Linked DNA regions of Homo sapiens. The protein of the gene in region 2 purifies or fractionates together with the protein of the main gene of each other region. This does not show direct contact. Each region holds a gene or a part of one and is shown on either strand. Other genes may lie near its edges.

Region 1 (3,500 bases), on a different chromosome or scaffold from region 2:
GGAGCACTTTGTTCTTATGGACTTCCTCTCCCCCGGGGGAAAAAATCCATGAGGTTTTGCCCTGAGGATGGGGACAGTGACACACTTATTAAGCAGAGTGACCACCTCTGCCCTATGAGCAGGACACTGGGTAGGGGCAGGAGGACCCCCAGTATTCTCAGCTGGCCACACCTGGAAGTGGAGCCTCCACCCTGTTGCTGTGGGCTGGGTGAAAAAGAGCTGCACCTGTTTAGAACTTAGACTCTTTATTTGGAGCTTCTGTTCCCTTGTTTCCTTTCTTCCTGGTATTCCCATTATACATATGTTACATCTTTTGTAGTTGTCCCACCGTTCTTAGATATTTTGTTCATTTTATTTTCAGTCTTTTTTTTTCTTTGATTTTCTGTTTTGGAAATTTTTATTGTCATATCCTCAAGCTCAGAGATTGTTTCTTAAGCTAAGTCCGGTCTACTAATGAACCCATCTAAGGCATTCATTTATTTCGCAGTGTTTTTGATCTCTAGCATTTTTTTAAATTCCTTAGATCCATCTCACTGCTTATGTTCCGCATCTTGTGTGTTATCTGCTCTTTCCATTAGAGCCCTTAGAGTATTATACATAGTTGTTTTAAATTCCCAGCCTGATAATTCCAACATCCCTGCTGTATCTGAATCTGGATCTGGTACATGCTCTGTCTGTTCATACTGTGTTTTTCTTAACTTTTAGTATACCTTGTCATGTTTTCTGTTGAAAGTTGGACTTGATATACTGCGTAAAAGGAACTGCAATAAATAGGCCTTTGATGATGTGGTGGTGAAGTGTGGAGGGAGCGGAAGTGTTCTGTAGTCCCATAAGTAAGTCTCAATCTCTTAGTGATCCTGTATCCCAGACTCTGAATTTCACACATGCTTCTCAGTCTCCCCTCCTCTCCTGGACAGGATGACTAGAAGGGGCTCTAGTTGGGTAGATTTCTTCCTCCAAGTCAGTTAGGCACTGATAAAACCCCAGCAGGTTAGGCTCTGGTTAAATAACTTCTCCTAAGGACAGGCTTTGTTAATAATGACAACATGCTGTGGCATACTTTAAAATGATTACCTTTTCCCCTTCCCCACTGCTGGACGCATTAAGAGATTTTTCTCTGATCTTCACCACTGAGGACCTAATAGAGCTCCTAGAGGTAAAACTCACATGAGTATGGGGGTCCCAATATGACCAGGTCCCCCTGGAGTTTTTAACACTCAGACTTACCTCCCCTGAGCCTCCAGCAATTTGTCGATTACAGTTAGGGTTTTCCTACCTGGGTACTGGTCCCCACAGAGATTTCTGCTCCAGTAAGTTGGAATTCTTTGTATCTGCCTATCTGTCTCACCAGTTTTGAGGGCAGTGGTTTACCCTGTGACCTCACTTCTCTGTGAGAGACCTAAGAGGAGTTGTTGCTTTTTCAGTGTTCAGCTTTTGACTTGTTAGGATGGAGTGATGACTTCTAGCTCCAGGCATGCCAGACCAGAAACTGAGAATGCCCCATTTGTTTTAAGTATATGTACCATCTCTAATATTCTAAGAGCTTATATCTACAAGGAAGAAAAGCTGATATGTATCAGACATAGCATTTAGTAAAGCTCTGATTGTTTAATACTTTTCAGAGATCCCCAGATTATTGTCCATCCTGTTAATGTGAAATTAAGTGGGATAGAATTATTTGACAGGAGCCGGGCATGGTGGCTCGAACTTGTGGTCCCACTTACTAAGGAGGCTAAGGCAGAAGGATCACTTGAGCCCAGGAGATGGAGGCTGCAGTGAGCTATGATTGCACCTCTGCACTCCAGCCTGGGCAACAGAGTGAGAACACATCTCTGAAAAATAAAAATTATTTGACAGGCCAGGCACGGTGGCTCACGCCTGTAATCCCAGCACTTTGGGAGGCCGAAGTGAGTGGATCATCTGAGGTCAGGAGTTCAAGCTTACGAAGATGACGGGATTAAGAGATTAAAGTAAAGACAGGCAATCACAAGGGTATTGATTGGGGAAGTGATAAATGTCCATGAAATCTTCACAATTTATGTTCAGAGATTGCAGTAAAGACAGGAGTAAGAAATTATAAAAGTATTAATTTGGGGAACTAATAAATGTCCATGAAATCTTCACAATTTATGTTCTTCTGCCATGGCTTCAGCCAGTCCCTCCATTCGGGGTCCCTGACTTCCTGCAGCAGCCCACTCCAGTTAGCCTTCTGCCCCATCACTCTATCAGAATTGTTCTGGGGAAGTTTATAAGTAACATTTATGCTGCCAGGTCCAGTCAGTTCTTCTTAAATTCTTCACTGAATAGCACACACTTGACAACTTCTTCCTCAAGACACTTTCTTCACGTGGCTACTACAATGGCACCTTTTCCAGAATTTTCTCCCTCACCTGGGGCCACTTCTCAATCTCATTTCCTGACTTAACTTTCTTTACCTCTATTTAACCTCTAGAAATTGGCATTTCTTAGTGTTTAGACCTAGGCCCTGTTTTCCTTCCAAATTCCTTCAGTAATTTCATTCATTCCTGTAGCTTTAAATAATCTATGGACCCATTCTCAAATTTATATCTCCAGCTTGGCCCTTTCTTCTTTTTCCACTCTGGGGAGTTTTTCTATAGCCCAGAAAAGCGTGTGTCTCAAAGGACAGAAAATGTGGCTGGTCGCAGTGGCTAATGCCTGCAATCCAGCACTTTGGGAAGCCAAGTGGGCGGAACACTTGAACCCAAAGTTCGAGACCAGCCTGGGCAACATGGTGATACCCCATCTCCACCAAAAAAAAAAAAAAAGCTGAGTATGGTGACATGCGCCTGTGGTCCCAGCTACTCGGGGCTGAGATGGGAGGATCGCCTGAGCCACGGAGGTCGATGCTGCAGTGAGCCATGATCACACCACTGCACTCCAGCCTGGGTGACAGAGTGAGACCCTGTCTCAAAAAAAAAAACAAAAAAAAAAAGAAAACATAAAAAGTTAATGGTGGTGAGATTATAGGTGACTTGTATTTTCTTCTCCTTTATTTGACTTTTTGTAGATTTTCTACAGGACTTTGAAATTTACAAAGTGTTCTTAAATATTTAACCCCATTTTGATACTGTCAACAACCAACCTTGAGCTCCTTGAGTCCAAGTGTCAGCTCAAAACTGGACTTCCGGTGACTGGGAGTCACTCCTCCATGCCAGGTGTCTCGTGCTACCTTTTTGCTGAACCATCCCATCCCTTTTGAAGCAGAACATTTAAAATTTTATATATATCCCTGTGCTCTGGCTAATAATAGGCAGTTATTTATAGTGTCAATTTTGATCTTACAGGTGGATTTGACATGGAAGTGAAAGGTTGGGGTGGAGAAGATGTTCATCTTTATCGAAAATACTTACATGGTGACCTCATTGTGATTCGGACTCCGGTTCCTGGTCTTTTCCACCTCTGGCATGAAAAGCGCTGTGCTGATGAGCTGACCCCCGAGCAGTACCGCATGTGCATCCAGTCTAAAGCCATGAATGAGG
Region 2 (3,500 bases):
GTGAATCAAGAGGCTCTATGCTTGGTGTACAAATATAATGTAGGACTAACCACAGGCTTTATTCATACCTATTTTCTTTCCCATAATGACCCATCTGTGGTGAAATTCCAGTAAAATTAAACTTCAACAGCTCTAAATGATAAAATCAGTTACTTTCAAGTTGAGCAATTATAACGACAAAATAATCCAAGCCTTACCAGCATGACTCCTGGTGGCAGCTGGCTTACAGCAGGCAAGCATTTCAATCCTTCTGACCCCTTCATTTGTGTGTAACAGTGAATTAGATCTTTGTTTCTTGGCCCACATTCTCAGGTGGACCGTCCCCAGGGTCTGGGTGGCTGTGTGACCAGGAGGGTGCTTGGGGGAGCACTGAGGGCTGTGCAGTACCCATTTCCCTTGGAAATGTTAGAAACACTCTGGGTGGCCCATAAAATGCTACCCTACATAATGGGCCTCTTTGGCTGCCTTCTTCACTTCCTCCCTCCAGATCATCACCACTTTGGCAGGGAGGCAGAAATGCGAGAGCTTATCCAGACATTTAAAGGCCACATGGAGAATTCCAGTGCCTGGGTAGTAGAAATCCAGATGTTGAAGTGCAGAGTGGACAATGTCAATTCGCAGCTCCAGGTGCTCGGTGATCATCTGGGAAACACCAATGCTGACATCCAGATGGTAAAAGGAGTTCTAAAGGATGCCACTACATTGAGTTTGCAGACACAGATGTTAAGGAGTTCCCTGGAGGGAACCAATGCTGAGATCCAGAGGCTCAAGGAAGACCTTGAAAAGGCAGATGCTTTAACTTTCCAGACGCTGAATTTCTTAAAAAGCAGTTTAGAAAACACCAGCATTGAGCTCCACGTGCTAAGCAGAGGCTTAGAAAATGCAAACTCTGAAATTCAGATGTTGAATGCCAGTTTGGAAACGGCAAATACCCAGGCTCAGTTAGCCAATAGCAGTTTAAAGAACGCTAATGCTGAGATCTATGTTTTGAGAGGCCATCTAGATAGTGTCAATGACTTGAGGACCCAGAACCAGGTTTTAAGAAATAGTTTGGAAGGAGCCAATGCTGAGATCCAGGGACTAAAGGAAAATTTGCAGAACACAAATGCTTTAAACTCCCAGACCCAGGCCTTTATAAAAAGCAGTTTTGACAACACTAGTGCTGAGATCCAGTTCTTAAGAGGTCATTTGGAAAGAGCTGGTGATGAAATTCACGTGTTAAAAAGGGATTTGAAAATGGTCACAGCCCAGACCCAAAAAGCAAATGGCCGTCTGGACCAGACAGATACTCAGATTCAGGTATTCAAGTCAGAGATGGAAAATGTGAATACCTTAAATGCCCAGATTCAGGTCTTAAATGGTCATATGAAAAATGCCAGCAGAGAGATACAGACCCTAAAACAAGGAATGAAGAATGCTTCAGCCTTAACTTCCCAGACCCAGATGTTAGACAGCAATCTGCAGAAGGCCAGTGCCGAGATCCAGAGGTTAAGAGGGGATCTAGAGAACACCAAAGCTCTAACCATGGAAATCCAGCAGGAGCAGAGTCGCCTGAAGACCCTCCATGTGGTCATTACTTCACAGGAACAGCTACAAAGAACCCAAAGTAAGTGGGAGAGGGGAGTCGCGTTTGGGGAGGGCACAGTCTCTTGAGAGGGTAGAGTCTTCCATCTCATCAGCCTCTTTTTTACTGCAACATGCATCTCCTTGACCAAATCCAGGGAAATGGGCCCAAGGAAACTGGGCAGTTGTAGAGATGGTGTGAGGTGGGAAGTTCCTGCTCTCAAGTTGCTTATAACCTGGTCACGGTGACCAAATGAACACGGGAAACCAACTGTAAATGGTGCACGTGTGTGATAAGGACGGCATGGGCTAGTGGGCCACACAGCCTTATTTCTGACTTCCTGATACCCCAAATGGTATGACCTTGAGCCTGTTACTTACCTTCTCTGAGCTACACTTTTCTCATCTGCAAGGGGGAGACAATAATATTTGCATCACAGTGAGGATCCAATGAGTTCACACATGTAAGGCCTTTAACAAAGTACCTAGCATTCATGCCCTCACCCGATGCTTTATTGAGGCCCAGTGGTGTGCTGGGTAAAAAGGTGAATAAGGTGTGATAGGTACCCTTGAGAAGCTTACAGGCTAGTAGTACAGACTTGCATGAAAGACATACAGACAGGTATAAGGCTGATAGGTTAGAAGCAGGTACTGAGAACTGGGGTTGGGGGCAGAACAAAAAGAAGGGAAAAGGAATCTTCTAGGGGGAGGGAAGAGATCTGTGGGGAAAAGATCAAAAGATGCTTTGTGAGAAGATGGCTCTTGAACTTCATCCTGAAGGATGAGTAGGTGTTTGCCAAGCAAATAGGGTTTGCAGGCATGGAGACACAAAATCATGAGATTCTGGAAACTTCAGGCAGTTCTCTTTGACTGGCCTGTGGACAAGAGGGCAGCTGAGAGACAGAAGGGAGTGTTTGGGGCAGCCACTGAAGAAATGGGGGCTAACAAATGAGGGCTTGGTGGGCAGCAGTGACGTTCCACTTTACTGCTTTGCCCGGTTCCTGGTCTGGGGTCAGAGGCCCCACTTCTTCACACATCTCCTAGTGCCCCAATGTCCTTATTCCTCCCAGCTCTCACTGCTGCTTTAGCTGGGCCCAGTGTTTCTCCACTTTGGGGGCACACTGGAATCGCCCAAGGAGCTTTGAAAATACTGATGCCTGGGGACCCACCTCCAGAACTGTGATTTTTTTTTTTTTTTGGTGAGGGTGTCTGGCATCAGTATTCTTTTTTAAATGCCTAGGTGGATCTACTGGCATCTGGGCTGAGAACTATTAGCTTAATTTTTTTTCTTAAAGGACAAAGAACTAGATATCTTAGGCTTTGGGGCTGTACGATCTCTGTTACAACTACTCAACTCTGTTCGTAATTATAAAGCAAAAGAAAAAGACAGTAAACTAATGAGCATGGCTACGCTCATAATAAAATAAATTTTATTAAAAAGACACTGCTGACAGGCTAGAGTTTGCCAATGGTTGGTTTAGATGACTAGTTCTGGGCATCAGAACCCCCAGAGGGCTTGCTGAAGCAGATTGTTAAAACATAATTTTGGATTCAGTAGGGCTATGGTGGTCCTGAAAATTTGCATTTCTACCACGTTGTCAGGTGATGCTGATGGTCTGGGACCACACTTTTCGAACCCCTGATTTATACCCATCTCTTACTGGGACTTTCGCCATTGTGTTATCATTGGTGTTTCTGTCCTCATTAGGAGTACCTTCTTCTGGTTCAGCTTCCACCAGGTTGACGTTTTTCCAGTGCAAATCTGGACATATTACCATCCTTCTCAAAACCTTGCAGTGCTTCCCATTGCTCATAGGGAAAAAAAAATCCAAACTGTTTCACATGGGATGTACCATTTAGTGCTGGTGAACCTGTCCAAATTCATCACTCACCCATCCTTTATGTCCCAAGAATACCAAGTAGCTTGAATAGATCAG

The links. Proteins that work in one complex are often made in the same cells at the same time.
Region 1: the proteins of CLEC4F (region 2) and CSGALNACT2 purify together in Homo sapiens (affinity purification with mass spectrometry; one large-scale study listed by BioGRID and IntAct). This does not show direct contact.

Annotation. Positions count from the first base shown.
Region 1 is NC_000010.11:43,179,945-43,183,444, forward strand, and holds part of CSGALNACT2 (chondroitin sulfate N-acetylgalactosaminyltransferase 2), read left to right. Parts: intron 1-3,305; coding exon 3,306-3,500. UniProt on the Homo sapiens protein: Transfers 1,4-N-acetylgalactosamine (GalNAc) from UDP-GalNAc to the non-reducing end of glucuronic acid (GlcUA). Required for addition of the first GalNAc to the core tetrasaccharide linker and for elongation of chondroitin chains.
Region 2 is NC_000002.12:70,814,100-70,817,599, reverse strand, and holds part of CLEC4F (C-type lectin domain family 4 member F), read left to right. Parts: intron 1-111; exon of another isoform or gene 112-402; coding exon of another isoform or gene 403-487; coding exon 488-1,606; intron 1,607-3,500. UniProt on the Homo sapiens protein: Receptor with an affinity for galactose and fucose. Could be involved in endocytosis.